6 separate regions of the Homo sapiens genome follow, and regions 1, 2, 3, 4 and 6 are each linked to region 5. Evidence: fine-mapped expression QTL. A gene starts in region 5. Each other region holds a variant in brackets. All regions are shown on one strand. Distances are from middle to middle. Region 1 holds the start of MIR429 (microRNA 429). Region 2 holds the start of CDK11B (cyclin dependent kinase 11B). Region 3 holds the start of MMP23B (matrix metallopeptidase 23B). Region 4 overlaps SKI (SKI proto-oncogene). Region 5 holds the start of SLC35E2B (solute carrier family 35 member E2B). Region 6 overlaps NADK (NAD kinase).

Region 1 (5,068 bases), 520 kb before region 5:
GTGAGGGCGGAGGGCTGAGCGGGCGGCAGAGGGCCTGTGTCAGCTCCGAAGTCCAGCCCCCAGGGGAGGGGCCGGCCTCTGCCGGGGGTGCCCCCGGGGTCACTCACGCCCAGGCTGGGTCTGACACCTTGAGGACCCCTTGGTGCCTCCACAGGTGGCCTGGAGGGCATCCTGCTCCCCCTCCCGGAGCCGCTGTGCCTCCCCCACCCAACCTCCCAGGCTGGGTTTTAGGGTGACCTGGCTCCAGGAAAGGCCATAGGGCTGGGATGCCAGGGCTGGAGAGGGAAGAGCAACAGTGGCCTCTCTCACGTGGTCCGGGCTCCGTGGAGGGTCTGCTGGGGGCGCAGGAAGGACAAGGTGGGTTCAGATTCCCGAGCCCCACCATGCAGGGGAGCGGGGACGCTCTGCGCTTGCCCTCTGAGGGACAAGGGGTCTCATTCCTTCCCCCAGTCAACAAGAACAGGAACTTTGTCCAAAACCCACCAGGCCAGGATGACCCATTGTTTCATCTTTTCCATCTGCAACCAGGGCGCCTGGGACCGCACCCCCACACAAGGCCCCAGCCTGGGGAGGGGGCAGCCACCGGGGAGAGGCTGCCCTTCACTGTTACTCATTAACCCGACCGAGCTTCAGGAAGCCAGCGAGGGGCTGCAGGGAACCTTTGCCAAGAGCAGGGCCTGGGTGACCAGGTGGCTCCCGGGTACCCCCACACAGCCAGGCTGGGCTGGGACCAGGTGCTGGGATGGGGGCTGTCAGGGAAGTGCCTCGGGGGCTCGTTCTGCAGACCCAGGAGGGATCAGGGCAGCTGCAGGAGGTGGCAGGAGCCGCCCCCGGGGCCTTCCCTTCACAGGCCCCGCAGACACCAGCCCAGGACCCGGAGGCCACCCACACCACCGCCGGCCGATGGGCGTCTTACCAGACATGGTTAGACCTGGCCCTCTGTCTAATACTGTCTGGTAAAACCGTCCATCCGCTGCCTGATCACCGTTAGAGGAGAGAGCTGCCTGCCCTGCAGCTCATCAGTGCAAAGCCGCCCGGTCTGGGGCTCTCATGCCCCCCTCACTATGGCCTGTGCCCATCCGCAGCCCATCAGTGCAAAGCCGCCGGGGTCTGGGGCTCTTGTGCCCCACCCTCGCCATGGCCTGTGCCCACCCGGCCTCCTGGGGCCCTCGAGCTGTAGTCCCCGGGCAGATGCTGTGGACCCCGTGCTATCAGCCTGGCCCCTGGGGTCACAGTCACAGATACCCGGAGCCCCACCCCACAGCCCCAGCCCCCTCGCCACCTGGGGAGGCTGAGACAGAAGCAGCTGGGCCCCCCAAAGTGCCTGAGCCCAGGGCACGGAGGAGCACAAATGCCCAGCAGGGACAATGTCACAGCGTCTCAGCGGCCAGGCAGCAGGACGCAGAGACCTCTGGGAGGTTCCCGGGGCCAGCCCTGGCCCTCCTCCTCCAGGGGCCAGCCGTGGGATGCAGACCACACTCTCCCTCCAGGGCCCATCTCTGGGGCTGAGGCGGGCGGGGCCGGTGCCCAGCTGCAAGACCATGGGATAGGGAAGGCAGGTGCTTGGGGCCACGCAGCCCTGCACTGGGGGCCCCTCCACCCCAGGCGGCTCACGAGGTGTCATCTGGAGCTGTCCCCAAGCCGGGATCTGCAGGTTGACCTCCCCCACCCGGGGCTATCTCCAGACCCTCTTTCCTCCCTGGGGAGATGGGGCAGTCCCCCGCAGGGCCAGCTGAAACCACCCCCATGCTGCTGCCGCCTGAGCGACGTGTGTGGGGAAGAACTTGGAGTGCCACCCCCAGAATGTGGCGTCCACCTCACCAGACCGCACGGGTGAGCCCTGGACTGCAAGGTGCATATAACACAAGGTTTGGACACACCTGGAGAGCTCGGGCCAGGCAGGGCCACACCTGTGAGCCTGAGCTCATCCAACACCGCCCGGAGCTCGGGGACCTTCCCCATCCCAGCACCTCCTCACCGCTGTGCCCGTCTGGCCAGTCCCTCCAAGCACCCCTCGGATGAAGTTGCGCCCCACACTGCAGTGGGGCTCACTCTCCACAGCGCCTGCTGCGTTGCACGGGGTGTGACAGGAAGGACCCTGCTGGGGCTGGCGGGGCCGTACCCAGAGCCTCCCTGTGCGGTTTCTCCTCCTCCTCCTCCTCTCCATAAGCACCGGGAACAAAACAGAAAAAAGTCTTTGTATAGTAATAAAGTCTGCAGTTCACGCACCCATGCTTGGACCAGCTCCTTATTTTAACCACACGTGCACAGACCCCCGCCGTGCAAAGGGCCCAGCTGAGGACAGAACCCCAGACACTGCATCCGGCCCCGGAGGCCCCCAAGGTTCCTGGGAGAGGCTCCCTCCCTCCCTTCCCTCCTCTTTCCCTCCCCCTCCTCCTTCCTCTCCTCCATCCCTCCTTCCCCCTCCTCCCTCCTCCTCCTCTCTCCGTCCCTCCCTCCCTCCTTCTTTTGCTCAGGAATCTTCCCTGACTCTCCTGTGGTCAGCTCAGGTCAAGGTTCTGGGGGAAGGGGGAGTCCCTGAGTGGAGACACCTCAGCCTGTGCTGAAGGGAGCTACCGAGGGGGCAGCCGGTGGCCCTGGGGGGCCTCTCTGAGCAGGTG[A/G]CCAAGAGCGTATGGTGCCGGCCAGCAGGAGCGAGGGCTGCGGACAGGATGGAGGCAGCCAGGCGCCAGCCAGGAGGGCTTCCTGGTCCAGCCACACCTGCCCCGGTGACAGCCACAGGTTGGTGGCAAAGGGGCCACCTCCCTTCCAGTGGCAGGGCCTGGCCTGCCTGGAGACCCCACCCACTGCCCGAGAGGTGCCAGGCCTCCCCCATTCTGCCTGGCCCTGGGGGCTGCACCCACCTGGACACGCGGGCCGGGCACACCCACGGCCCAAGGTCCTGCTCCCACCTGCCCTGCGCAGGAACCTTGCTGGGGCTACAGGTATCCGTGGCTGCCACACCACCCAGATTTTGGGATTAAGGGGCAGAGTTTTCAAGTTTGAACTCAGGAAAGCTGTGAGGGACGAGGTAGTGCCTGGCTGGGGAGCCTGGGGGCTTCTGAGGGCGGTGGGGAGTCCTCAGGCCTGTGTGGGGCCCCAGGGAGGGGAGGCTGCAGGGGTTGGGGGACCTGCCCGCTGCACCCCCTCTCCCCCCACACAAGGAAACCCGTCCTCCGAGGTGTGTGTCCAGATCACATCCTCCAAAGGCCGGTGCGCCACAAAGATGAACACGGGGCTCTCCCTCCCAGCCCAGGGGCAAGGACCCTGCCTTGCTCTGTTCCCGGAAGGGCCAGTTCTGGAGAGGAGCTGGGCGAGTCCTTCCCATCCCCATCAGCTCCTGTCAGGCCACCTGCCTCAGCCTCAGGGAGGAGGGGACACACGTAGGCCCCTTCCCAGAGTCAGAGCTTCCGAACCCGGATCTGCTGCTCCCAGCCTGGAGAGCCACAGCAGCCACCGAAGGAACCCCCCACCCGTCACCCCCACCAAGTGGGCCCTGCTCCCCGAAGGCCCAGCCACTCAGCCCAGGACCTGCCCCAGCCCCACCTGCCACCTGACCTGAGGCTCCCAGAGGGCAGAGGGGCCTCCTGGGTCTGCTCCGCACCAGGGTCCAGCGGGACCATCTCAAAGCTTGAGCACCAGGCGCAAGGTGGGAGTGCGGGGAGGGGACGAGGACACTGTTCCCAGCTGGACAGAACCAGGAGGACGGTGGGAGACGCCCCCCACCGCCCCGCTTCCGAGAGCTCTCTCTTCCTTCCAGGGACTCCCCAGGGACAGCCGGGGCCCCTTCTTCCCCCACAGCTCAGGCCCCAGGGACACAGAGCGGGGAACCCCCAGGCTGCCGCCCCGGCGTGGGTCGGGGAGGCGGCTCCGGAGCGGGCACCACACTCTCGAAAGGGTGGCTTCTCCTCCCGGCTGCTGAAAAACCACACAGGCAGGCACAACAACAGACGCTTACGCCCGCATCTGGAGGCCAGAACTCCAAAGCCACAGGGCAGGCAGGGCTGCACCCCTCTGGGGGCTCCAGGAGAGGACCCTGTCTGCCTCCCCAGCCCCTGCCAGCTCAGGCATCAGTGGCTGTGGCCGTGTCACCCATCTCTGCCCCCCAGTCCCACGGCGTCTCCCCCACGTCTGCGTCTCCTCTCTCCACCTCCCTCTCAGGGGGGCAGAGGCCATTGATTCAGGGCCTGCCCTGGGTGATGTCACTAGAGATCCTGACGTAACCCCACCTGCAAAGCCCCTTCTTCTAAATAAGGTCACATTCGAGGTTTCAGGGCTATGATGTGGTTGTCTTTTGGGGGCACCACCAGCCCCCTGCAAGGGGACCCTAAGCACAGAGGCCCTCGTGACCCACGCAAAGCTCTGAAGGACACGGATGGGTAGGGGACACGTGGCTGGAGGCTCAGAGTTTGAGGCAGAGGGGATCAGACCGTGCCATGGGTCATGCCAGGAGCCCAGGACTCCCAGACCTCGTATCATTAGGTGTTTTAAAGAGAAGGCGAGGGCAGGCCAGGCGCAGTGACTCACGCCTGTAATCCCAGCACTTTGGGAGGCCGAGGCGGGCGGATCACCTGAGGTCAGGAGTTCAAGAGCAGCCTGGCCAACATGATGAAACCCTCTAAAATTAATAATAAATTAATAATAAAATAATTATAATAATATAGAAAATAATATATAAAATAATAAATATATAAAATATAAAACAAAATAAAAATAAAAAATAAAATTAATATTAAAAATACAAAAATTAGCTGGGCACTGTGGTGGGCACCTGTAATCCCAGCTACTCGGGAGGCTGAGGCAGGAGAATTGCTTGATCCTGGGAGGCGGAGGTTGCAGTGAGCCGAGACCGTACCATTGCACTCCAGCCTGGGCAAAAGAGTGAGACTCCGTATTTTGAAAAAAAAAAAAGAGAGAATGTGAGGGTTAAACAAAGACACACAGAGATGGAGAAAGGGCAGCCTTACATCAACACGGGTACATTGCAAACACCTGCAGAGGTGGGGGACCAGCTGGATGCCAGAGCCCACTGCCGCCTACGGGCTGGGGTGCCTATAGGTATGGGTGGGAG
Region 2 (5,068 bases), 36 kb before region 5:
AAAACCCTGATGATGACCATGAGGGGCACCTGCTATGGCAGGAAAACTCATTTAGTTTTTCTCATCTTCTTTTTTTTATTTTGTGTAGAGACGAGGTCTCCCTGTGTTGCCCAGGCTGGTCTTGAACTCCTGGGCTGAAGTGATCTGCCTGCCTCGGCCTCCCAAAGTGCTGGGATTACAGGCGTGAGCTGCCGCGTCCGGCCAATATGAACATTTCTCATCAGCGGCCCTCCTCAGGTATCTTTCAGCATTCTACTTTATTTGTGCAAAATCTTTTTTTTCCTTTTTTTTTTTTTAGAGGCGGGGTCTTGCTCTGTCGCCCAGGCTGGGGTGCAGTGACATGATCTTGTCTCACTGCAAGCTCCACCTCCTGGGTTCACGCCATTCTCTTGCCTCAGCCTCCCGAGTAGCTGGGACTAAAGGCGCCTGCCACCACGCCCGGCTAATTTTCTGTATTTTTAGTAGAGACGGGGTTTCACTGTGTTAGCCAGGATGGTCTTGATCTTCTGACCTTGTGATCCGCCCACCTCGGCCTCCCAAAGTGCTGGGATTACAGGCGTGAGCCACCGCGCCCGGCCTTTTTTTCCTTTTAAGACGGGGTTTCACCATGTTGGCTAGACTGGTCTCGAACTCCTGACCTCAGCTGATCAGCCCGCCTTGGCCTCCGAAAGTGCTGAGATTACAAGTGTGAGCCACCACACCTGGCCTGTGCAAAATCCTATATAGTATATTTTATTAATCAGTGTAACACATGGCAAAGTTCTTTACAGAAAGAAGGGGCAAGGGTCTGGAGGGCCACAGACAACACTTGAGAGTCAGTCACAACTGTGACATAAAAACCTCAATAGTTACGCTATGTCACAGTAACTCTAGGAAAGAGTAAACCTTAATAGTTACAACAGCACACAGTTGTCACAGCGACCCTAGGAAGGACCGGCCAGGCCAGGGCTGTGTACAGCTGGGTCTTGCACATCTGTACATCCGCTCACCTGTCTTCCATAGAGTCTTCTCTTCTATACGGGGAGTTCCTTATTGTGATCTCCATGCGGTGATCTCTCAGCTCCCCCTCCTCAAGGGAATCCCGCTTGGAATCCCGGTCATCAGACTAAGAAGCAAAGAGAAAGTTAATCATTTTCTTTATAAGTTTTTTTTTCTTCATAGATAAAAGTATTTTTAATGATAATCAAACCTGGGCAACATCCCAAAACAAACTTTCATATATACTCTGAATGAGCCAGTGTTATAAAATATAAAGAACTTTTGGCCGGGTGTGGTGGCTCACGCTTGTAATCCCAGCACTTTGGGAGGCCCAGGCAGGCGGATCACGAGGTCAGGAGCTCGAGACCACCCTGGACAACACAGTGAAACCCCATCTCTACTAAAAATACAAAAATTAGCTGGGCGTAGTGACCGGAACTGCTTGAACCCGGGAGGCGGACATTGCAGTGACCCGAGATCACACCACTGCACTCCAGCCTGGCGACAGAGTTAGACTCCGTATCAGGGAAAACAAACAAACAAACAAACAAACTTTAATTCAAATCTTATCACATTAAAATTACAACTCTCTGTAATCTGAAACCTGAGATGAGAAATTTAAAAATAGCATATATGACAAGGGACATTAGACTCTATGCCAAGTATGTTAGTTGCTTATATGAGCCAAAAATGAATCTTAAGGCGTATCTTGCAAACCAAATACTTTGTGATACCTCATATGGTACAGGCATCCCTTGGAGATATTTTGGGTTTGGCTCCAAAACACCACAATAAAGTGAGTCACACAGATTTTTTGGTTTCCCAACGCATATAAAAGTTTGGTTTAGGTCAGGCATGGTGGCTCACGCCTGTAATCCCAGCACTTTGGGAGGCTGGGTGAGGCAGGTGAATCACCTGAGGTCAGGAGTTCCAGACCAGCCTGACCAACAAGGTGAAAGCTCGTCTCTACTAAAAATATAAAAATTAGCCGAGCGTGCTGGCAGGTGCCTGTAGTCCCAGGTACTCAGGAGGCTGAGACAGGAGAACTGCTTGAACACAGGAGGCAGAGGTGGCAGTTAGCTGAGATCATGCCACTGCACTCCAGCCTGGGCAATGGAGCAAGACTGTCTCAAAAACAAACAAAAAAGGCC[G/T]GGCGCGGAGGCTCATGCCTGTTGTAATCCCAGCACTTTGGGAGGCCGAGGTGGGTGGATCATGAGGTCAGGAGATTAAGATCATCCTGGCTGACACCGTGAGACCCCATCTCTACTAAAAAATACAAAAAATTAGCTTGGCATGTTGGTGGGCCCCTGTAGTCCCAGCTACTTGGGAGGCTGAGGCAGGAGAATGGCGTGAACCCGGCCCTGGGCGACAGTGCGAGACTCCGTCTCAAAAACAAAAAAAAAGCTAACAAAGTGAGCACATGCTATTGGAAAAATGCTCAATGCAGAGTTGCTACAAACCTTTAATTTGGAAAAATTTCAATATCTGTGAAGCATAATAAAGTGAAGTGCAATACAACAAGGTATGCCTGTACTCACTAACATCCCAAATGATGCTGCTAAAGATCTTAGCAAAAGAGGTACTTTGCCAATGCCTCTTACCAAATTACTAAAAAGGTTTCCTGAGTACATTACCATGCAAACCAAGAAAGATGTAAAATATTTATATTAATTTCAAGGCAAGTTCCCACTATATTAAAAATACTTAGAGATAGTATTATGAACATACTAATGAACCGAGAAAAATTAGTCCAGTTTTGCTAATGACTTAACATTCAACGTATTTTATTCTCCATGTATGCTCAATCTAGACACAGCTTTAGTGTGTTAAATCTGCCTTTAATGTCAACTGAATATTTGAATGTTTTTGTTAATTTTTAGAATAGATTTTGGGCTCACCTGCGACATTTGGAAGTACAAAAGAACTTCACCGAAGAAGCGTTGTTCTAATGGAAAAATGAGGGCAAAGAAATTAAATCTCCTTTAAGAAAACCACTTACTTAAAAAATATGGCTTACATTTTTTAAGCGTTTTATCTCTGCTTTCTCCTCTTGTTCCTTCCTTCGTTTCTTTTCCTGAAGAATTTCATCTAAAGTTTTCACTTTCCAAGAGTCCTTTTCATCACCCATTTGAGTTAAAACACTGCAAAAAGAAAAATAATTCAGCCTACATCAGGACACAGCAAGCTATGGTGCTGAACACTTGAACCTAGTCACTTTTGAGGGATTCAGAATAAATCCTCATTAAGAATAAGAAGTTGTGCCCGGCGCAGTGGCTCAAGACGGTAACCCTAGCACTTTGGGAGGCCGAGGCGAGCAGATCGCTGGAGTTCCGGAGTTCAACACCAGCCCGGGCAACATGGCAAAACCTCGTCTCTACAAAAAATACAAAAGTTAGCCCAGTGTGGTGGCGCGTGCCTGTATTCCTAGCTACAGGAAGGAGGCTGCTAGAGGCAGGAGGATCACTTGAATCAGAGAGGTCAAGGCTGCAATGAGCCAAGACTGCGCCACTGCACTCCAGCCTAGATAACAAAGTAAGACTTGGTTAAAAAAAAAAAAAAAAAAAAAAAAGTAAGCTCTAGGCTGAGGCGGGTGGATCACAAGGTCAGGAGGTCAAGACCAGCCTGGCCAACACGGCGAAAACCCTGTCTCCACTAAAAATACAAAACTTAGCTGGGCGTGGTGGCGGGTGCCTGTAATCCCAGCTACTCGGGAGGCCGAGGCAGCAGAATCGCTTGAATCCGAAAGGCGGAGGTTCCGGTGAGCCGAGGTCGCGTCACTGCACTCCAGCAAGACCCCGTCTCAAAAAAAAAAGAAAAAAAAACAAGAATGATAAGTTGTAAGCCAGGCAAGGTGGCGAGCGCCTGTAGTCCCATATACTCTGCAAGCTGAGATGGGAGACCGATTGAGCCCAGGAGTTCCAGGCTGAAGTGCGCTTGTGAACAGCCACTGCGCTGCAGCATGGGCGACAAAAAAGAGTGATGGGTTCTGAAAAATGACCGCTTGAAATCAAGTCTCGTTTCTGTCATTCTTGTATGGTCTTGGGTAACGTAATTCACCTCAGTTTAGTCTTCCGTACAACCAGAATAACAACACCTACGTGATAGTATCGATCGCGGATTAAAGATCATCCGTTTAAAGGCTCTTAACTCAGGACCTGCCACTCATCAAACACTGCTTTTACTGTCAGAATCTGCTAGAAAGACCGCTTGGACTACGTGAAGCCACTAGCACACTGGACAGCTGCACCTTGAGACCGGGGAGATGCTCCGAGATGTGCTCGCGAACAAGGCCACCTGACCCGGGCACTGGGCTATTTCCTCGGGTTCAGTCCCGCACACTTGAGGTTCAGCCTGGCAGACGTTGGCTCCAGACAGCGTTTGGACCCGCCGCCTCCACCACCCAAAGTTCCGTGCGGGATGAGACTGTCCGCGGAAGCGAGGGTGTCGCTCGCCCCCGGGCCCGGGTCCGCCCCGCTCCGAGGCCTGCTCGGAAGAAAGACCTCGGTGCGCAGTTCTCCTCGCGCTCCCACACCTGGTCCGCCCAGTCGGAACTCACCCCTACGCCGCCGCCGCTGCCGCCGCCGCCGCCGCCGGTCCCGGAGCCAGAGAAGAAACAGCAACCGGCGCGCGCCAAAAGTATCGTCACTTCCTGTATTGGCGCGTAATGATGATATAATAGCCGACCTCCGGCCCAGAACTCGAGACAACGACAGGGGCTCGCTCTGTGCGGCACTTCCTGTGTCTGCGCGGGATGATAACGCATAAAACAGCGCTTGCTCAGGTCCAGGACGCCAGAAGAAACAGCCCGGTGAGCGCACTTCCGACTTCGGCGCGGGCTGTGACGCAGGAATCGGGACTCCGGAGGAGCGACGCCCACTTTTGGAGCAGTTTGCGCCTGCGCGGAACGCGTGGCCGGCTTCCGGAATCCTACCGGGACTTTTCCGGTAGCGAAGCCCGCGCCTGTGCCAAGGCTTGCGAGCAGAATGCCTTCGCGATGGACGCCCGCATTCCACCCCCTTGACCGCTGGGACCCCTAGTGGCGGGTGGGTGGAGCGCGCTCCATTTACCTGCTGGTTACCTCGTGAGGCGC
Region 3 (5,068 bases), 61 kb before region 5:
TGTGCTCCGAGCTGGCGCTGCTGGTGCTGTTCTCGCCGTGCCAGCACCGCACCGTGTGTGAGGGTGAGTGGGGGGCCCCGGGGTGGGGAGGCCCGGCTAGTAGGGCCGCAGCCAACCGCGCTCTCCTCTTCGCAGAGTGCGCGCGCAGGATGAAGAAGTGCATCAGGTGCCAGGTGGTCGTCAGCAAGAAACTGCGCCCAGGTGGGTGAGGCTCTGCGCCCCCAACACGCCTCCTGCTCAGCTGGTGGCCCGCGGGTCCCCGTCCCCCACCCCTTCCCTCCCACACTTCCGCCCATGGCCCTTCCCCAGGTTACACCCCGCCCTCCCAAGGCTCACACCCGGCCCCCCAGCCCCCAGCCCCCAGCCCCGCCTGCTCCAGATCACACCCGGCCCACAGCCCCGCCTCAAGGTAACACCCTCCTCCCCCATCACACCCCAGCCCCGCTGGATTTCACGGCCCCTCCCAGATCACACTCCCTCCATAGCCCCACCCCAGATCACAGCCCACCCAGAGCACCGCCCCCCCATCACACCCCGGCCCAGCTCACAGCCCACCTGCAGCCCTGACTCCAGCCCGCACACCACCTTATGCCTGATTTCCACGGCTCACCTCCTGCCCGCACCCGGGCCCCACCTCTGCCTCCAAATCACCCACCCCGCCAGCCCCCCTTGCAGGTCACAACCCGTCCCAGGTGACACCCCGCCCCCAGCCTCGCCCCCCCGCAGCTCCCTGCTCCCCGCATTCCCCCACCCGGCCTCCCAGCTCACACCCGTCCCCCACCCCGCAGACGGCTCTGAGGTGGCGAGCGCCGCCCCCGCCCCCGGCCCGCCGCGCCAGCTGGTGGAGGAGCTGCAGAGCCGCTACCGGCAGATGGAGGAACGCATCACCTGCCCCATCTGCATCGACAGCCACATCCGCCTCGTGTTCCAGTGCGGCCACGGCGCATGCGCCCCCTGCGGCTCCGCGCTCAGCGCCTGCCCCATCTGCCGCCAGCCCATCCGCGACCGCATCCAGATCTTCGTGTGAGCCGCGCCGTCCGCCGCGCCCGAGCTGCCTTCGCGTGCCCCCGCCCTGTGTTTTATAAAAAGAAAGATTCTCGGACGTTGCCTCTGCTGTCTGCCTGGGGGACCGGGCGCCTCTGGGGTCCTCCCCTCGGGACACGCGGGCGAGCCTGGGGGCGAGGGGGGGGGGGCCCTTCCCTGGGTCCGCCCCGCCCGCCCCAGGCTCTCGGGTCCAGACTCCCGCCCGGACTGCGGCCTTCGGGCCAGGACACCCTCCAGGCGCGGGCACGGCCGCCTCCCGCCCCCCAGGCCCGGGTCCGACGGGGCGGGGACTCCTGTGTCTGCCCCCGGGCCCCCCTCGCTCTTCCGTCCTGGGGGCGGCCGCGGGGACTCGCGCTCTGATCCAAGGGGCCCGACACTCCCCAGGGCTGTGGGGTCCCGTCCCAGCAGGGAGTTAGTTGGGGGGCGTCCCAGGCAGGGTCTGGGGGCCGGGCGCACGCAGGCGGGGTGACGAGCTGGGGGGGCGGGGGGCGGTGTCGGAGCAAATACGGCGGCCAGGCCCAGCCTCTCGCGCTTTCCAAGAACCGCCCGCGGCCGCCGCCAGCTGCTTGGCGCTGACCCCGTTGGCCGGGCTGCCGTCACCCTGGGCCCGACGCCGGCGCGGAAAACGGGGAGGGACGAGACAGACACAGGCCGGTCTGGCTCGGAATCTCCTGCTCCTCTGCCCAATCCCCCACCCCCGCCCCGCGGGACGCCGGTGCCCGGTCTCGGTCCCAGCCCAGAGCCGCTCGCGCCTGGACGCCGGCCGCCCCGTCGAACCTTTGGGTCTCCGAGCTCCCCGCCCCCGCCCCCAATCAGGACCGGTCCAGACCTCCAGGCCCGGCGCTTAGCTCCGTTTCCCGTCCCTCCCGTCTCCCTCTCCCCTTTGCTGGGGCCTAGCCGGGGATTTAGGAGCCACACACCCTCCACCTCACGCGCTACCCTCCACGGGGCTTCCCGCAGCCAGGGCCCGCCCCTTCCCGGCTCCCCGGGAGACCCTGGCAAGTTCCCTCCCTCCGCCCCGCAACCTGGCACCCTCCGCGGCCCTTGCCTACCCACGCACCCCCTCCCCGCCTCCCCCTCCACCGCCCCATACTCACTGCCACGTCCCCATCCGGCCATCCCCTCCCAGCTCTCGGGGACACTGTCAGGCGAGCGACGCGTC[T/C]CCTGCGGCCCAGCTCAGCTGCCTGGGCCAGGATGGAGACTCCGCTCATGTGGGGCTCAGGGGTTTTTTGAGGATTCCATTTGGGAAAAAAGCCACCAGATCACTCACTGCCCAGCAGTGGGGGCTTGGGGACCCCCACTGCTACCCTTTCCTAAGCGGGAGCCCTGGCGCTGCCCTTCCCGGGCTGCCTGGGGCCCTCTTCGCTCCCCCCTCCGAGGACCCCGCCCAGCAGGCCATGCCCAGGCCTCTGCCCCTGGCCCACGGGACGCGGGTCCCCATGCCCCCGGCTGGAGACAGCAGGCAGCTCGGCCAACGGACGGGCCAGCTGGTTCCCTTCAGGGGCAGCCTTGCCCCCTCTCCCGCCCCGTCTCCCTCCCCCCCACCACACCGGGCTGTAACCCGAGCCGCCGAGCCACTGCCTCCCCTCCGGATCCTCCCCGGAGGCTCTGCGGCCCGGGCCCCCGCGCCTTGCTGCCCCATGCAGCCCTGAGCCCCACAGCAAGTCTGCCATGGGCCGCGGGGCCCGTGTCCCCTCGGAGGCCCCGGGGGCAGGCGTCGAGCGCCGCTGGCTTGGAGCCGCGCTGGTCGCCCTGTGCCTCCTCCCCGCGCTGGTGCTGCTGGCCCGGCTGGGGGCCCCGGCGGTGCCGGCCTGGAGCGCAGCGCAGGTGAGCGGCGGGGGGGAGGCCAGGTGCCGGGTTGGGGGGGTCCTCACGTCTGTGGGTCTGGTCTATCGGGGGGCCCGCAGGACGTGTGCGGGGTGTGCGGGGTGTTTGAGGGTCCGGATGTGCGTCCCGAGGTCGGAGGGTTGGACGCCCCTGTGTCCAGTTGTTGGGAGGGGTGGGAGGCCTCGCCCTGCTGTTCAGCCCCTTCCCCTCCACTGGGCCGCGTTCCCAGGGACGTGCAACAGGGCGCTCAGGTTAGGAGACCCGAAACCACAGGCAGACAGGACCCGCCACGCCCGCTCCCAGCCCTGGGCACCCCCACCCCCGTTTCCTTCCAGTCCATTTTCCGCGGCAGTTTTTGGTCCTGGGGACCGTCACCGATGCCTCCCACGCACGCTTTCTTCCCTGAAGGGAGACGTCGCTGCGCTGGGCCTCTCGGCGGTCCCCCCCACCCGGGTCCCGGGCCCACTGGCCCCCCGCAGACGCCGCTACACGCTGACTCCAGCCAGGCTGCGCTGGGACCACTTCAACCTCACCTACAGGTGCGCCCTGGCTGGGCCCCGGGGGAGGGGGCGCGGCCGGCGCCCGCTGAGCTCACTCTCCCTGCAGGATCCTCTCCTTCCCGCGGAACCTGCTGAGCCCGCGGGAGACGCGGCGGGCCCTAGCTGCCGCCTTCCGCATGTGGAGCGACGTGTCCCCCTTCAGCTTCCGCGAGGTGGCCCCCGAGCAGCCCAGCGACCTCCGGATAGGTGGGCGCCCGCCCCCGCCCCGGCCCGGCCCTGCGCGCCCGGCCTCTCAGCCCCGTGCTCCCCCCAGGCTTCTACCCGATCAACCACACGGACTGCCTGGTCTCCGCGCTGCACCACTGCTTCGACGGCCCCACGGGGGAGCTGGCCCACGCCTTCTTCCCCCCGCACGGCGGCATCCACTTCGACGACAGCGAGTACTGGGTCCTGGGCCCCACGCGCTACAGCTGGAAGAAAGGTGACCGTCCAGGCTGGCCTCCTGGAGGCCTCTCCTCTGCAGCACAGTGGGCTGCCGCGGTCGGGCTTTGGGGCAGACGGCAGGAGGGACCTTCCGGGGTGGTGGCTGCCACTGGAGTCTAGCAGGCAAGGAGGGGAGCCCGTGGGAGCCCCCATCCCGGCAGCCCTGAACTCCCTTTCCCATCCCCCTGCGCCTCTGGAGCGGGAGCTGGAGCTGCATTCCTGGGGGCCGAGCTCACCGCCTGGGCCCAGAACATTCTTATCTTTCCGTGGCTGCGGCCGAGGGCGGCTCCGCGGCTGCGCTCCAGCAGATACACCGGGCCTCGGGGAGCTGGCCCACGGGCGGCGGGGCTGGGCCCGGGGCTCCCAGGCGCTGACCCCCGGGGCCCGCAGGCGTGTGGCTCACGGACCTGGTGCACGTGGCGGCCCACGAGATCGGCCACGCGCTGGGCCTGATGCACTCACAACACGGCCGGGCGCTCATGCACCTGAACGCCACGCTGCGCGGCTGGAAGGCGTTGTCCCAGGACGAGCTGTGGGGGCTGCACCGGCTCTACGGTGAGTCCCTTTGTCGGGCGGGAGGGCGGGGACCGGGCGGTCCTGAGCCAGGCCGTGCTCCCCACGCTCCCGATAGGATGCCTCGACAGGCTGTTCGTGTGCGCGTCCTGGGCGCGGAGGGGCTTCTGCGACGCTCGCCGGCGGCTCATGAAGAGGCTCTGCCCCAGCAGCTGCGACTTCTGCTACGGTGATGCCCACGGGGCCGGGACAGGGCTGCGTGGGAGCTGGGCCTTGGCCATGGTCGGGGCTGAGGGGGCACTGACGGGGCTCTTTCCCCCACCCGGAGCAGAATTCCCCTTCCCCACGGTGGCCACCACCCCACCGCCCCCCAGGACCAAAACCAGGCTGGTGCCCGAGGGCAGGAACGTGACCTTCCGCTGCGGCCAGAAGATCCTCCACAAGAAAGGGAAAGTGTAGTGAGTGAGCGCCCCGGGCGGTCCTCGGGGTGGGCAGCCCGCGGGCGGCCTTGGGGCAGGGGTGCGGGGCAGGCAGCCGGGGGGGGGGCTGTGCCTGCAGGAGACGCCCCGCCCCCCTGCAGCTGGTACAAGGACCAGGAGCCCCTGGAGTTCTCCTACCCCGGCTACCTGGCCCTGGGCGAGGCGCACCTGAGCATCATCGCCAACGCCGTCAATGAGGGCACCTACACCTGCGTGGTGCGC
Region 4 (5,068 bases), 600 kb after region 5:
ACCTCCTAAAGTGCTGGGATTACAGGCGTGAGCCACCGCACCAGCCAGAAGGTTTTTTTTTTTTTTTTTTTTTGAAACGGAGTCTCGCACTGTTGCCCAGGCTGGAGCACAGTGGCACGATCTCGGCTCACTGCAAGCTCTGCCTCCCCGGTTCACGCCATTCTCCTGCCTCAGCCTCCCGAGTAGCTGGGACTACAGGCACGCACTGCCACACCCGGCTAATTTTTGTATTTTTAGTAGAGATGGGGTTTCACCACATTGGCCAGGCTAGTCTTGAACTCCTGACCTCGTCGTCCACCCACCTTGGCCTCCCAAAGTGCTGGGATTACAGGCATGGGCCACCACGCCCAGCCTACTGTTCATCTTTACCTTGTGTAATGCCAGTTTAAGACGCAAATGCAGGTCGGGTGCAGTGGCTCACTCCTGTCATTCCAGTGCTTTGGAAGGACAAGGTGGGCAGATCACTTGAGCCCAGGAGACCAGCCTGGGCAACATGGAGAAACCCCATCTCTACAAAAATACAAAAATTAGCTGGGTGTGGTAGTGTGCCTGTAGGCCCAGCTACTCTAGAGGCTGAGAGGGGAGGATCACTTGAGCAGCCTGGGAGGCAGAGATTGCAGTGAACTATGATGATGCTACCGCACTCAGCCTGGGTGACAGAGTGAGACCTTGTCTCTTTAAAAAATCATAAAATGCAAATGTAAGAGTGTTTAACTTGTGGAATCATCAAAATTGCACAGTTCTTGATTTGAACCCCAAATATAATAATTAAAGTGCGTGTGCATTTTATTCTTACCACATCAGGGCAAACGCTGCCCAAAATGAACCTGGCTGTTGGAGTTCGCTTAACTCACCCATGTGGCCACGCAGCTCTCGCTCTGAGTGAGGACAGACTGCGTGTGGGGGCTGTGGGCGCCTGTCTCCCTCCCTCCCAAGGCTCCGGTCGTGGGCTAGTGGGAGAAAGTGACTGGGTGGGACCAACGCGACCTCCTCCACTGGACGCTCTTTACACGGGCTGGGAATGGCAGTGGGCTTGCATGTGGCGTGTGCCACCTCTGCTCATGCATGCTCTGTGGTCACGGAGAACTTTGCTTATAAAAGAACATCTTATCAAAGGTGAAACTGTTCAGAATGCCAATGATGGGGACAGAGCGTTAAGCCCAGGACATGGCTGCGTGCCCACAAAGCCAGCTCTGGATGGAAAAGTAACGAGTGGAGGGCGTTTTCTTCCCAGACCCGGTGGTCCAGCCGTGAGTGTCCAGCTGCAGGCCCCACAGCAGCCAGCTCTGGGCGAAAATCTAGAGGGCCCCTGCGCACCCTCCCGCCCGGGGTGCCCTGGCCCAGGGTGCACCTGTGCTCTGGACCCTGGGCCGTGCGGGGCTCCAGGGCGCCTGGAGACTGCCATTTTGTGTGGGAAGGTGGAGGCGACTTGGGAATGCGTTTCTTTAGATTTTAAAGATGAGAGAGTGTTGGCCTTGGACAGGAAAAATTCCAATTTGGTGAGAAATGGAAATATCCAATTTTTTTTTTTTTTTTGAGACTGAGTCTGGCTCTGTCGCCCAGGCTGGAGGGCAGTGGCGCGATCTCGGCTCACTGCAAGCTCCGCCTCCCGGGTTCACGCCATTCTCCTGCCTCAGCCTCCCGAGTAGCTGGGACTACAGGTGCCCGCCACCACGCCCAGCTAATTTTTTGTATTTTTAGTAGAGACGGGGTTTCACTGTGTTAGCCAGGATGGATAATGTCCAAATGTTTTATCCAAGTCCAAATAGCAGTGTTGGTGGTAGGTGTGCTCTGCCTGTGGGTGGGGGTGGTCTCTGTCTCAAGGTGGGCTACGAGGGTCTGCCGCAGGGGGGGTGTGGACGGGTCTTGCATGCGTCACCTTCCCTGTGTGGGGCGTGGGGGTGGTCTCCCCCTAGAAGGACAGGGCTTGTGGCAGCCGTGAGATGGATGGATTCCCAGGGATCTCCCCTCACCTTGGGGGATGAGCCCAGGCTCCTTTCTGGGGTCTCCAGTGTGTCCCCGATGGACCAGCTTCCTGCATGGCACCGCCCTCCGGC[C/G]CCACCCCGAGCCCTGAGCCCCGCCTTGAGCCCTGGGCGCTCCTGGCCCTGGCCTGGCACTCAAGGGCTGCTTTCAGGGCTGTTTCTCGTCTGTCTTTTTTCTTTTCTTTCTTTTTTTTTTTTCTTCCTTGAGACGGAGTTTCACTCTTGTTGCCCAGGCTGGACTGCAATGGCACGATCTCGGCTCACCCCAACCTCCACCTCCCGGGTTCAAGTGATTCTCCTGCCTCAGCCTCCCAAGTAGCTGGGATCACAGGCGTGTGCCACCACGCCTGGCTAATTTTTGTATTTAGTAGAGATGGGGTTTCTCCACATGGGCCAGGCTGGTCTCGAACTTCTGACCTCAGGTGATCCACCCGCCTCAGCCTCCCAAATAGCTGGGATTACAGGTGTGCACCACCATTCCCAGCTAATTTTTGTATTTTTAGTAGAGACAGGGTTTCTCCACATGGGCCAGGCTGGTCTCTAACTCCTAACCTCAGGTGATCTACCTGACTTGGTCTCCCAAAGTGCTGAGATTACAGGCATGAGCCACTGTGCCCAGCAGGGCTGTTTACTTAAAGGTACATGTTCCGATCCCTGAATTCGGTTTTATTTTGAGGTTAGGAGTGAGAACACGATTGGTTGTCGTCGTTTCCTGTGGGAGTGGCTCTTTTCAGAGGCAGACAGTTGTCTTTGCTCGTGCGTGCACATTTGTTTGCATGCGCGTGAGACCCCCAGGTGGTTTTGCTCTGGGAGTCGTGGGATGTGTTCTCTGCTCCCTTCCCTTGTCCTGAGTGGCCTTGGTTGGCCACAGAGTCAGCTGGCAGTGGCTGTCTGTGGGTCACCTCCACACATGGATGAAACTAGCCTGAGGTGGGCTGTTGTTGGCCTGCTGGCATTTTTGGGGTCATGGCAGTGCCCTCAGGCTGGTGATAGTGGGGGTGGGGACCTTGTCTCAGGTACCAAGTTCGTCTTCATCCTTTGATCCCCTCTTCCAAAAACTACCCCCTCCCCCCGCCACGTGTGTGAGGCCTGCAGTGGTGTGCACAGAAGCCACCCTTGGGCCTGCTGGGTGACAGGTCCCCTCCAGGTGACGGGAGCTGCCTCGCTCTTCCTGCAGGTCCCCGGTGCCGCCTGGTTTTCCCGAATCGCATGCACCTGTCACTGAGCTGTCAGTGTGGTCAGCTTGCTGCACCCACCCGGGAAGTGGAGCTGGGGGAAGGTCATGTTCTGCAGGAGACCTGGTGGCTCAGGCCCTCAGGACCCAGCTGCCCCTCCCCGAGGAGCAGTGGTTGGTGAGAAAGCACACAGAAGGCAGAGGCTAGAGATGCAGCTCCTCTGTTATGTTGAGCCTCTCTAGGCAGGGAGCTCAGAGACCCGGAGGTGGCCCTCCTGCCTCCTCTCTGTCAGGACTTGACACCTGTCTCAGTGGCCATGGCTGTTTGTCTTCATCCCTCTTCGGTGAGGGTGGCAGGCGGCCAGATGCCCATTACAGGCCACCTCTCCTGCCAGCCAGTCTTCGAGGGCTGGTCACCACGTGGCCACTTTGTGAGGCCCCTCCTCTAAGATCAAATGTGGCACTGCAGAGCTACACCAACCCCGAGCCCCGCGCAGGGCAGGGCAGGAGAACCAAGATCGTGGGGGTGGGGGGGTGCAGGGCAGGGCAGGAGAACCAAGATCGGGGTGGGGGTGCAGGGCAGGGCAGGAGAACCAAGATCGTGGGGGTGGGGGGGTGCAGGGCAGGGCAGGAGAACCAAGATCGTGGGGGTGGGGGTGCAGCACAGGTCGTGCTCCCGGGGCTGGCTGTAGCGGCTCTCCCCTCCCCCGAGCCCACCGTGTGCTTCTTGTCCAGCCTTTTGAGATGACCACAGCTCTCAGTTTGGCCCCACAGCAGCATCTGGGTTGACGTCCCTGATGAGGTTTGGAAACAGCAGAGAAGGGGTTGTCCTCTTCCACCAAGAGCCTGGCTGGCCTGGCCTCCCTCTGGGCAGCACCTGGCTGGGCTGACTGGGCAGAGGGAAGGGGTGGCCTGGCCAGGGTGAGCATGGGGTGCTTGCCACTCCACAGAGGGGGTGCAGGAGGCGCCTCCAGGCCACGTTGCTCCAGGACATGCCACCTCCACAGCCCCCTCCTTGGAGTCTTTCCTCAAGGTCTTAGGATGGCTGTTTGTGCCCTAGCACAGAGACCCTTGCCCTCTTGTGTGGCGCCGGGGGTCCCTGTTGGTCAGGGATGTTCCTAGAGTGGGGAGGGAGTCGGTAAGGCAAGGGTGATGTTGGTTGTAAGGGGTGGAGTCCTTGGTCTTAAGAGATCAGGCAGGGCAGCCCTGGGCTGCCCCCGGCAGAGCCTTTGCCCCAGGCAAGTCCCGGGGCTCCTGGGAAGAGGCTACTTCTCAGCCTCTTGAGAGGGCCTCCAGGGCACAGGCAGGGAGCAGCTGTGAGGGTGTGGCTGTGATGGGGACTCTTGACTGCAGTGTGGATGTGAGCTGATTGGGGGTAGGCCAGCCTTCTGTGCGGGACACTTGGGAACTGAGGGGACACAGCCGCCACCCTGCACTGCTCAGCCTGAGCACCTCTCTGGCTGTTTGGTGCTGCACGTGTTTCTGGGCATCTGAGATGAGGCCCCAGGGCCTTTGCTTCCAGACACCAGGGGAGAGAGACCAGCCCCAGAACAACAGTTGGCGGGTGGGCTGGGGTCGTCAGAGCTTCTGACCTCATCAGGGGCTCCCCCAGAGTTTTCTGTGCGCTGCCGTGTGTCTGGGCCAGCGCTGGGGGCAAGCGATGCCTTCTGTGGTTTGAGGTCTTGTAGGCAGGAGGAGGAGGAGGAAGAGGGCACCTGCTGAGATACTTCACTGGTCTGAGGGCCCCTTCTGCCCCAGCTAGCGCTTGGGTGAGGGTTGGGCTTGCGGAGCCGTCCTGTAAAGCCGGGGATGGCAGGACGCATTGTCACCCCCTCCTGCCGCTCTTACGAAACACTCTTAATTGAGTCCGATTCTTGGTGAATCAGCCTTCCAAGAACCGCGACCGCAGCAT
Region 5 (5,068 bases):
GGAGGCTGAGGCAGCAGAATCACTTGAACCTGGGAGGCGGAGGTTGCAGTGAGCTGAGACTGCGCCTGCTCCAGCCTGGGTGACACAGCAAGACTCCGTCTCAAAAAGTAAAGAAAAAAAAAAAACAAAACAACATATTTCACAGAGAAGAATTTATGTTTTTGGAGAAGGAGTTTCGCTCCTGTCGCCCAGGCTGGAGTGCAGTGGTGAGATATCAGCTCACTGCAACCTCAACCTCCCAGGTTCAAGCGATTCACAGAGGACAATTTCTAAAAGGCAAATAAGAAGCAGGAAGGGTGCATGCTCCTTCTCTACTGCCCTGTAACAGTCATTCCACACTTACCACCTCAAAACAACAAATGCTTTTGATGTTGGCTCCTGTGGGGCAGCAATCTGCGGGAAGCTTAGCCAGGCACCTCTGGCTTAAGGTCCCTCCTGAAGCTGCAGTCACACCATGGACCAGGGCTGTGACCTCATCCGAAGGCTCAACTGGGGCTGAGGCCCACCTCTGAGCTCACTCAGGTGGACGCTGGCTGGGTTCAGTTCCTTGCTGGCTATAGGTGGAAAGGGCCCCCACCAGTTTCTTGCCAGCTTCTCCACAGGACGCCCCACAGCCTGACAGGAGCTTTCATCCAGCAAGCTCATCAGGGAGTGGGAGAGAGCAGCCAGGACAGGAGCCCAGACCTTTCTGAACCTCATCTCAGAAGTGACATCCTTCCCTTCTGCTGTCTGGGCACAGCTCCCCGGGTGGAGCCCGAGGACTAGAAGGAAAAGAAAACTTGGATTTAAAATGGGATAAAGCCATAGGAGCTGCTCGTCCCACCACAGGAATCTCAACGCCGGGTTACTGACAAAGCGTCACTTTGCACCTCGTCCAACTGTGCAGACCTCTCCTAGCCAGGCCCCTGCACCAGAGGTTAAGAATCCGTGCCCCTGGTCAGGAAGTCCAGGTGGGTTCAAACGGCCAGCAGGGAATTTCAGGCAAAATGTGTCCCAAATCTTCAAACCATGCCCCAGAACTCAGACCTCCCCCTGGGAGTTCGTCCCAAGGAAACCACCTGCAAGAGGCTCAGGCTGCAGGGGACACTCCGCTTCCAAAACCCGGAAGCTGGAGACCACACAAGTGCCCAACGCCAAAGGCACCCCGTGGAGGGACGCCCTGTGCCCTCCCCCGACCAGGTGACCCGCTGCGCCCTACACATCTTCACCAGGAAACATCTGTTATCGATGTGGACGAAGCGCAGCCTGCACTCCCAGATCCGCTCATTTTCGTTCTGCCCTCCGTTTTACGATTCGCCTACACTGAAAATGCGTGAGTGGAGTGGAAAGCCTTCCTACTCCTGCCTCAGCGACCCCTTCTAAAATACTGCCTCGTTTGGCCTGAAAATGTGATTTGCAGGCTTCCTGAGCAAAGTAGATTTCACTCCATTAAAGAAAAAAAAAAAGAAAAGGCACCGAACGGGGCTCGGCTGTCGGGAGTTTTGCTTTAGTTTTTTGCGTGTTTTGTTTTGTGTTTTTTTGTTGTTGTTGTTCTTTTTGCGGCCACGCACACCGCGTTCCCAGGCTTCAGGGCGTGGGGGTCGCCGTGGACTCCCGGACGTGAAAACGCTTAAAGCCAGCTGGGAAAACCCCACCAGCGTTTTCCGCGCACAGCGCCAGCCATAGGAAAGGACCCCCAGGAGCGAATCCGGGCAGGGAAACCCCGGACGCCCGCACACTCAGCATCAGTACCGGCACCCAGCACCCAGCACCGAGCACCGAGCACGCAGCACCCAGCACCGATCACCGAGCAGAGCACCCCGCACGCAGAACCCACCGAGAGCCTGATGCAGTCTCCGCCGCAGGCATAGCGCTAGGCCCCGGCGCCTTCACAACAAAGGGACGCTGGCGGGCGGGGCCTGAGAGGCGCGCGGTGGAGGGGCCGGGCGCGAGGCCGCGGAGACAGCTCGGAGCTCGGCACTGGGGAGTGGCACAGCGCTGGCGGATCCAGGTGGGCTTCACGGGGCGCCCGCGGGACCGGAAATGACGCGCAGAACCCTGCATCGGGCTCCTCGCTGCCCCGCGGGCGCCGCTCCTCAGTGCCCCAGAGCCACGGAGCCGGGGAAACGCGCCGCGGCCCACAACGCCCCCGCGGCTGCCCGTTGGTTCCGCCCGGGCCGTTCTACTCCAGGCAGACGGGAGGAGAAACACGGCGCGCTCAGCGTCCCCTCCCCCGTTGGTTCTGCTCGGGCCCTTCCACTGCAGGCCGACGGGGGTGGAAACACGCAGTTTTTTTTTTTTTTTTAAGGTCTAGGGTAACACGGGGCTTTTAAGTGCCTCTCCGCTGCCGCCTGGTGGTCCAGCCCGGGCCGTTGCAGTGCAGCCACACGGGGAGGGACACGGCGCGCCGAGTGCTCCGGGCGGCCGCACGTTGGTTCCGCCCGGGCCGTTCCACTGCAGGCAGAGGGAGAGGACGACGGTGCGCGTAGTGCATCCCCGTGGCCCGTTGGTTCCGCCGGGGCCGTTCCACTGAAGGCAGAAGGGGGGGGACCGTGGCCCCACCCCCCGCGGCAGCCCGTTGGTTCCGCCCGGGCGGTTCCGCCCGGGCTGTTCCACCAGCGGCACTTCAGGGCGGGATCGGCCAGTCTGTGGAGGCAGCGGCCTCTAAGCCCCGGAGGGTTTACTGCCCAGGTTTGGGTTCCAGGAATAAGAAATCCACTGAATAGGCTTAACTTAGAAGACACAAAGGCGCCTCCTGGCGGAAGTGGCCACGCTCCGCCCAGCCTGAGGGAAAGCTGCTCTGACAGCTGGGCCCGGAGCTGCGGGGGGCGGGGCCGCCGCGCGGGGTGAGGACTCGCCTCAGGGCGCTGATTGGCTGGTGGCGCGCTCCGGGGCGGGGCCTTCGTATCCAGGCTGGCGTCGGGGCTGCCGCGGGACATCCGGAGCAGACACCCGCGGGCGCGCCTGCGGCCCCGAGGACCCCCGGCTCCGGAGCTTCGTCGAGCGTTTTCCTAGCGTTACTTTCCCAAATAATTTTCAGGAATGAAGTTACGGCTAAAGGGCTCTTTAGAGATTACTTTTGGGCCGGGCCCGGTGGCTCACGCCTGTAATCTCAACACTTTGGGAGGCCGAGGCCGGCGCATCACGAGGTCAGGAGCTTGAGACCAGCCTGGTATGGCCAACGTGGTAAAACGTCGTCTCTACTAAAAATACAAAAATTGGCCGGGCGTGGTGGCGGGCGCCTGTAATCCCAGCTACTCCGGAGGCTGAGGAAGGAGGATCACCTGAACCCGGGAGGCGGAGGTTGCAGTGAGCCGAGATGGCGCCACTGCACTCCAGCCTGGCGACAGAGCGAGACTCCCTGTCAAAAGAAAAAAGAAAAGATTACTTTTGGCCGGGCGAGGTGGCTCACGTCTGTAATCCCAGCATTTTGAGAGGCTGAGGCGGGCGGATCGCCTGAGGTCAGGAGTTCGAGACCAGCCTGGCCAACATAGTGAACCCCCCCCCATCTCTACTAAAAATACAAAAAAAAATTACCCGGGTCTCGTGGCGCGTGCCTGTGGTCCCCGCTACTCGGGAGGTTGAGGCAGGAGAATCGCTTGAACCTTGGAGTTGAAGGTTGCAGTGAGGCGAGATAGCGCCGCTGCTCTCCGACCTGGGCGACAGTGGGAGACTTCATCTCATAAATAAATAAATAAATAAATATTACTTTTACGTTTTGTTAAACTTCCACTTGTTTTTGTTTCCGTTGCATGAACCTTCGTAAAGCTTCAGGAGGCTGATGGCAGCCTCCTTCCCCAGGCTTCCCCGTGGCGCCCGCAGCCGGGTTGGGCCAGAGGCTGGGACTGTTTCCTCCCGTGGGGTCTTTGGTGGGGATGTCCCCAGAGGAGTGGGGCAGGAGGAGGGGCACGGAGCGCCCCCGGGAGCCGGTCAGAGCGCAGCGATGGTGTCTGTGGTTCCAACCACTCGGGAGGCTGAGGTGGGAGGATGGCTTGAGCCTGGGAGCTTGAGGCTGCAGTGAGCTAGAATCACAGCACCACACTCCAGCCTGGGCGACAGAGTGAGACCCTTGTCTCACAAAAAAAAAAAAAAAAAAAAAAAAAAAAAAAAAAAGGCTGGGTGCGTTGGCTCGCGCCTGTAATCCCAGCACTTTGGGTGGCCGAGGCGGGCGGATCACGAGGTCAGGAGATCGAGACCATCCTGGCTAACACGATGAAACCCCGTCTCTACAAAAAATACGAAAAAAAATTAGCCGGGCATGGTGGCACGTGCCTGTAATCCCAGCTACTTGGGAGGCTGAGGCAGGAGAATCACTTGAACTCAGGAGGCAGAGCTTGCAGTGAGCCAAGATTGGGCCACTGCACTCCAGCCTGGCGACAGAGTGAGACTCCGTCAAAAAAAAAAAAAAAAAAAAAAGGAAGAAAGAAAATTATAAAATGAAGTGAAATTAACGCAGTGGAGTGCCACCTGCCTGCTGCCTGAGTTCACTATCCACACGGAGTTCATAAATTTGAGAGCAGTTTACAAAGTAGATTCTCCTACTTTCCAGGAAACCCAGAAATGTCTGGTGATTTGCCCAACAGTCTCAGCTGTTGTGGTCAGCAGGGCCGCTGTGGTATCCAAATGATTTCAAAAGCAGATTTATAAAAAGTACTCCTTTTTTTTTTGAGATGGAATTTCGCTCTCATCGCCCAGGTTGGAGTGCAGTGGCACGATCTCAGCTCACTGCAACCTCCGCCTCCCGGGTTCAAGTGATTCTCCTGCCTCAGCCTCCTGAGTAGCTGGGATTACAGATGTGTGCCCTCACGCCCAGCTAATTTTTATATTTTTAGTAGAGACAGGGTTTCACCATGTTGGCCAAGATGTTCTCCATCTCCTGACCTTGTGATCTGCCCGCTTCAGCCTCCCAAAGTGCTGGGATTACAGGCGTGAGCTACCCCACGCCCGGCCTTTATTTTTTTTTGAGACGGAGTCTCACTCTGTCGCCCAGGCTGGAGTGCAGTGGCGCGATCTCGGCTCACTGCAAGCTCCACCTCCCAGGTTCAAGAGATTCTTCTGCCTCAGCCTCCCGAGGAGTTGGGATCACAGG
Region 6 (5,068 bases), 82 kb after region 5:
AAAATTAAAATACAGTTGGGTGTGGTGGCTTGTGCCTGTAATCCCAGCACTTTGGGAGGCCGAGGCGGGAGGATCGCTTGAGTCCAGGAGTTCAAGACCAGTTCTGTGTCTTGCTAGTGGTTATATAATTAATTTAAGAGGTAACACTGCATAGAGCCATACACACATGTAAAACTGGTGAAACCTGAATAAGGTCTATAGTTTAGTTAGCAGTATTTCAATTCCCTGGTTTTGATATTGTACTATGGAGGTGTATGGAGGTGTAAGATGTTAACACAAGGGCCGGGCATGGTGGCTCATGCCTGTAATCCCAGCACTTTCGGAGGCCAAGGCGGGCGGATCACCTGAGGTCAGGAGTTTGAGACCAGCCTGACCAACATGCAGAAACCGCGTTTCTACTAAAAATACAAAAAATCAGCCCGGCGTGGTGGCGCATGCCTGTAATCCCAGCCACTCGGGAGGCTGAGGCAGGAGAATCACTTGAACCTGGGAGGGGGAGGTTGCGGTGAGCTGAGATCACGCCATTGCACTCCAGCCTGGGCAACAAGAGCCAAACTCCATCTCAAAAAAAAAAAAAAAAAGATGTTAACACAGAGGGAGCTGGTGAAGGGCACAGGGGTCTCTCTGTACTATTTTTACAACTTCCTATGAATTAGTCTATGATTATTTTTTTTTTCCCCAGACGAAGTCTCGCTCTTGTCCCCCATGTTGGAGTGCAATGGCGCAATCTTGGCTCACTGCAACATCTGCCTCCAGGGTTCAAGCAATTCTCCTGCCTCAGCCTCCTGAGTAGCTGGGATTACAGGTGCCCGCCGCCACACCCGGCTAATTTTTGTATTTTAAGTAGAGATGGGGTTTCACCATGTTGACCAGGTTGGTCCTCAAACTCCTGACCTCAGGTGATCCGCCCGCCTCGGCCTCCCAAAGTGCTGGGATTACAGGTGTGAGCCACCGCACCCAGCCAATTATTTCAAAATAAACAGTTAATAAAGGTCAGACACAGTGGCTCACACTTGTAATCCCAGCACTTTGGGAGGCCGAAGCAGGGGAATCACCTGAAGCCAGGAATTGGAGACCAGCCTGGGCAACACAGCAAGACCCCGTCTCTACAAAAACATTAATAAAAAATAAACAAATCAAAATCACAAAATGTTAAAAAAAATGTATTATTACTGCTACATTACCTAGAAGCTCTATTTTGTGTGTGTGTGTGTGTGTGTGTGTGTGTGTGTGTGTGTGTGTGTGTGTGTGTGAGAGAGAGAGAGAAATAGAGATATTGAGAGACTGAGAGGTAGGGTCTTGCTCTGTCACCTAAGCTGGAGTGCAGTGGTGCAATTACAGCTTACTGCAGCCTCAATCTCCCAGGCTTAAGGGATCCTCCCATGTAGCTGAGACTACAGGCATGAGCCACTATGTCCAGCTAATTTTTAAATTTTTTGTAGAGACAGGGTCTCGCTACCTTGAACGGGCTGACCTTGAACTCCTGGGCTCTGGTGGCCCTCCTGTGTTGACCTCCCAAAGCATTGGGATTACAGGCATGAGCCACTGCACCCAGCCTAGAAGCTCTGTTCATATTTATTTGCGAAGATCAATTTGATGACTAAGCAGTAAACTAATTTATAAAATAATATTAAATATTAAAACCAACTTTAAACAATTATCTTCACCTATGTATGTGTGTGTGTGTATATATATACACACACACACACACATATATATATATTTAACAAGTATCTCCAATACCACAACCAGTGTATTTTTTGTTTTTTTGAGATGGAGCTTCGCTGATGTTGTCCAGGCTGGAGTGCAGTGGCGCGATCTCGGCTCACCGCAAACTCTGCCTCCCAGGTTCAAGCAATTCTCCTGCCTCAGCTTCCCAAGTAGCTGGGACTACAGGTGTGCGCCACCACGCCCAGCTAATTTTGTATTTTTAGTGGAGACCTGCCTCTTAATTCTCCAACATGGAGGGGTTTCTCCATGTTGGTCAGGCTGGTCTCAAACTCTCAACCTCAGATGATCCGCCCGCCTTGGCCTCCCAAAGTGCTGGGATTGCAGGCGTCGCCACCGCGCACGGCCACCATTATGCCTCGGCCTCCCACAGTGCTGGGATTACGGGCGTGGCCACTGCGCGCGGCCACCATTGTGCCTCGGCCTCCCACAGTGCTGGGATTGCAGGCGTGGCCACCGTGCGCGGTCACCACTGTATTTTTTGACAAGGG[T/C]GAGTCAGGACTGACACTTAATTCATTTGTTTGATATATTAACTGCTTTAAAAGGACACACAATGCTAGCTGCACCAAAGTGCATTCAAATTCCTCATAGCATGAATCTAATTTTAAAAAACCTTTGTAGGGCGGGCATGGTGGCTCACGACTGTAATCCCAGCATTTTGGGAGGCCGAGGCGGGCAGATCACGACATCAGGAGTTCAACACCAGCCTGGCCAAGATGGTGAAACTCCGTCTCTACTAAAAATACAAAAAAAATTAGCTGGGCGCGGTGGCAGGCGCCTGTCATCCCAGCTACTCAGGAGGCCGAGGCAGGAGAATCGCTTGAACCCAGGCGGCAGAGGTTGCAGTGAGCTGAGATCACGCCACTGCCCTCCAGCCTGGGGGACAGAGTGAGACTCCGCCTCAAAGAAAAAAAAAAAATCCTCTGTATTAGGAAGTTTTATTAGAAAAAAATACTAGAGCACAATAAGAAAATATTCATAACGAACTTATACAAAGTAGCAAGGAAAACATTAAGATGCCAATAAATAAATGTGCAAAGAACATGAACAAAAGTCACACACACACAAATACAAACATAATACACGAGTTCGTTCCCATGTAAGAACTCAATCAATATTTGTTGCAAGACTAAATGAAAAAGGAAAATTTATTTAGTGACAGAAATGGGGAAACATTCAACCTCAACCCTGAGTGGGAAAAAACTTACTGCCCACTAAATTACCCATCTCATCTCACCCCGGTAAATAATGCCCAGTGCTGGCATGCACACTGGCAGTATACAAACTGAGAAAGACTTTCTGGAAAGTGCTACAGCCATGTGACCACAGGGCTTCACCCTGTGACCTCATTAAACCTAAGCAGATTACAGGTCTGAAGGGGGCTTTCTTTAGATGTGGCTCCACCTACTTAGGGGCAGATGAAGAAAACAGGGGTCTGGGCAGTTCTGAATGGGAAGGCCAGGCATCACCTCCCTCTTCAGTTGCACAAAGTGTGCGTGGCATCCTCACATCCCATCTGCCTCAATTTCGCTTTTTCTCTGAACACTTTTCACCATCTGTCTGAAGCACACACACACATTTTATTCACTTCCCCATTCCCATGCATGAATGCTAGGACCTTTGCAATTGTGGGCCAGGAAAGATTGCAAATGATAAGCCACCAGCACAGAGAGTAGAAATGAAATCCTGGGGTTACAAGCTAAAGCATTACTGACACCCACTTGTCCAGAACGGCTGAAGCTGGGCGGTGACTGTCAACAGGTATATACGGACTAGAAAGTGGAGCTGCTGGAGGAGGCCCTGTACCTTCCTGCCATGACACAGCCTCCCCCCAAGTGCTGGGCTTGTGTGCTCAACACTCCCTCTTGCTGTCATCCTACCACACCTGCAGACTGGAGGTAATCCAGATGCAAGGCCGTCGAGTCCCGCAAACACCCACCTGCCTCTTAATTTTCCAAGTGAGACCTACATTTCCTCAAGCGTGAAGCTCAATAAAATCAACTATTGTTTTCCGTTTTCATCACGAGCGCCACTTTCCCCCTATTTGTTCACCGCCTCCACTCCACAAGAACTGCTCTTGACTTGGCCAACTTTCTGGGACACCCTCACTACAAGGATTTATGAGTCAAACAGGTTTTTGTGCTAGCCTGGAAATCTAACTGCTGACAGCAGTTGTTTCAAGAAGAAAATGCTGTTTTGGAACCAAACAGCAGGCTGCCAACTGAAACAACATAAACCCACCTCCAAGTTCAAATGAAACAAACAAACAAAAAGACTGGTCCAAGTGAGGCAAGCTGTGGTGGCTCACACCTGTAATCCCAGCACTTTGGGAGGCCAAGGTGGGCTGATCACGAGGTCAGGAGTTCGAGACAAGCCTGGCCAACACAGTGAAACCCGTCTCTACTAAAAATACAAAAATTAGCTGAGCGTGGTGGTGGGCGCCTGTAATCCCAGCTACTCAGGAGGCTGAGGCAGGAAAATCACTTGAACCCGGGAGGTGGAGGTTGCAGTGAGCCGAGATTGTGCCACTGCACTCCAGCCTGGGCAACAGAGCTAGACTCTGTCTTAAAAAAAAAAAAAAAAAAAAAAGACTGGTCAAAGTGGCTTACGTCTGTAAGATCAGCACTTTGGGAAGTGGAGGCAGGAGGATCTCTTGAGGCCAGGAGGTTGAGACTAGCCTGGACAACACAGTGAGACTCTATCTCTACAAAAAATTTTATAAATCAGCTAGGTGTGGTGGTGCAGGCCTGTAATCCCAGCTACTCAGGAGGCTGAGGTGGGAGGATCAATTGAGCCCAGGAATTTGAGGTTACAGTGAGCTATAATCATGCCACCATAAACACGCCTGGAGGACAGAGTGAGGCCCTGTTTCTAACATACACACACATATACACACAGAAACATCTCGAGAGGACACCTCCAAATGATGAAGCTATTTTGTTGGGTACTGCGGTGGCACCTGTGATTCCTCAAGTAGCTTGGAATCAGCGTGCTAACACCATAAAGTGGCTGCAAAAGTCCCAGTGAAGTCACTGCTGAGAGCAAACAGGCCTTACAGAGAAGTTCCAAGGGGACAGGAAATTTCCAGAGGCTTGAGAGGACAATGTTCAGGGGAATAAGTACTTGAAGGGAATTATCTAACAAGGTGTTAAAGTAACTAGCTTCTTAGACAAGATGACATCAGGAGGAAAAAAAAACTTATTAAGGCAAACATGTCAGTTTCAGGCCAACTAAGGCTGTCAGAGAGACATGGAACACAAGAAGAGAAGAGTTTTGAAATGTATTCCCATCAAGAGCCAAGAATAATGAACTTTTGAATGTAAAACTTAGTGTGTTCCAA

Evidence for each region. PIP is the estimated chance that this variant, and not a neighbour inherited with it, causes the effect.
Region 1: its variant is fine-mapped to the expression of SLC35E2B in whole blood (TOPMed, PIP above 0.99).
Region 2: its variant is fine-mapped to the expression of SLC35E2B in whole blood (INTERVAL, PIP above 0.99).
Region 3: its variant is fine-mapped to the expression of SLC35E2B in monocytes (Schmiedel 2018, PIP 0.95).
Region 4: its variant is fine-mapped to the expression of SLC35E2B in ileum (GTEx, PIP 0.99).
Region 6: its variant is fine-mapped to the expression of SLC35E2B in whole blood (TOPMed, PIP above 0.99).

The regions. Positions count from the first base shown.
Region 1 is chr1:1,168,111-1,173,178 of GRCh38, forward strand. MIR200BHG (MIR200B, MIR200A and MIR429 host gene) reads left to right here. Exons shown (of 2, transcript XR_007065348.1): 2 at 1-2,228. It overlaps MIR429 (microRNA 429), which reads left to right and starts at 895; the gene lies at 895-977. It overlaps TTLL10-AS1 (TTLL10 antisense RNA 1), which reads right to left. Exons shown (of 2, transcript NR_173246.1): 2 at 4,946-5,068. RefSeq lists an enhancer at 2,696-3,263. The variant A/G (reference allele first, on the strand shown) is at 2,622.
Region 2 is chr1:1,654,380-1,659,447 of GRCh38, forward strand. CDK11B (cyclin dependent kinase 11B) reads right to left here and starts at 4,625. Exons shown (of 20, transcript NM_033486.3): 1 at 4,535-4,625; 2 at 2,996-3,119; 3 at 990-1,105. The coding sequence starts at 3,106. RefSeq lists enhancers at 4,468-5,068, 4,622-4,711, 4,732-5,011. The variant G/T (reference allele first, on the strand shown) is at 2,130.
Region 3 is chr1:1,629,504-1,634,571 of GRCh38, forward strand. MIB2 (MIB E3 ubiquitin protein ligase 2) reads left to right here. Exons shown (of 20, transcript NM_001170687.4): 18 at 1-63; 19 at 136-201; 20 at 789-1,102. The coding sequence ends at 1,027. It overlaps MMP23B (matrix metallopeptidase 23B), which reads left to right and starts at 2,670. Exons shown (of 8, transcript NM_006983.2): 1 at 2,670-2,871; 2 at 3,280-3,410; 3 at 3,478-3,617; 4 at 3,685-3,852; 5 at 4,245-4,409; 6 at 4,486-4,596; 7 at 4,699-4,825; 8 at 4,948-5,068. The coding sequence starts at 2,716. LOC124903821 (a long non-coding RNA gene) reads right to left here and starts at 2,283. Exons shown (of 3, transcript XR_007065352.1): 1 at 2,142-2,283; 2 at 1-1,072. RefSeq lists enhancers at 713-1,276, 3,377-4,188 and silencers at 724-973, 1,074-1,223. The variant T/C (reference allele first, on the strand shown) is at 2,207.
Region 4 is chr1:2,285,819-2,290,886 of GRCh38, forward strand. The region is part of intron 1 of SKI (SKI proto-oncogene); the gene reads left to right. Among named protein-coding and RNA genes, the nearest start is that of SKI, 60 kb to the left of the region's middle. The variant C/G (reference allele first, on the strand shown) is at 2,058.
Region 5 is chr1:1,690,633-1,695,700 of GRCh38, forward strand. It overlaps SLC35E2B (solute carrier family 35 member E2B), which reads right to left and starts at 2,163. Exons shown (of 10, transcript NM_001290264.2): 1 at 1,817-2,163; 2 at 344-761. RefSeq lists an enhancer at 1,698-1,992 and silencers at 1,827-1,986, 2,557-2,636.
Region 6 is chr1:1,772,478-1,777,545 of GRCh38, forward strand. All of the region lies in intron 1 of NADK (NAD kinase), which reads right to left. Among named protein-coding and RNA genes, the nearest start is that of NADK, 3.5 kb to the right of the region's middle. RefSeq lists an enhancer at 1,631-2,132. The variant T/C (reference allele first, on the strand shown) is at 2,220.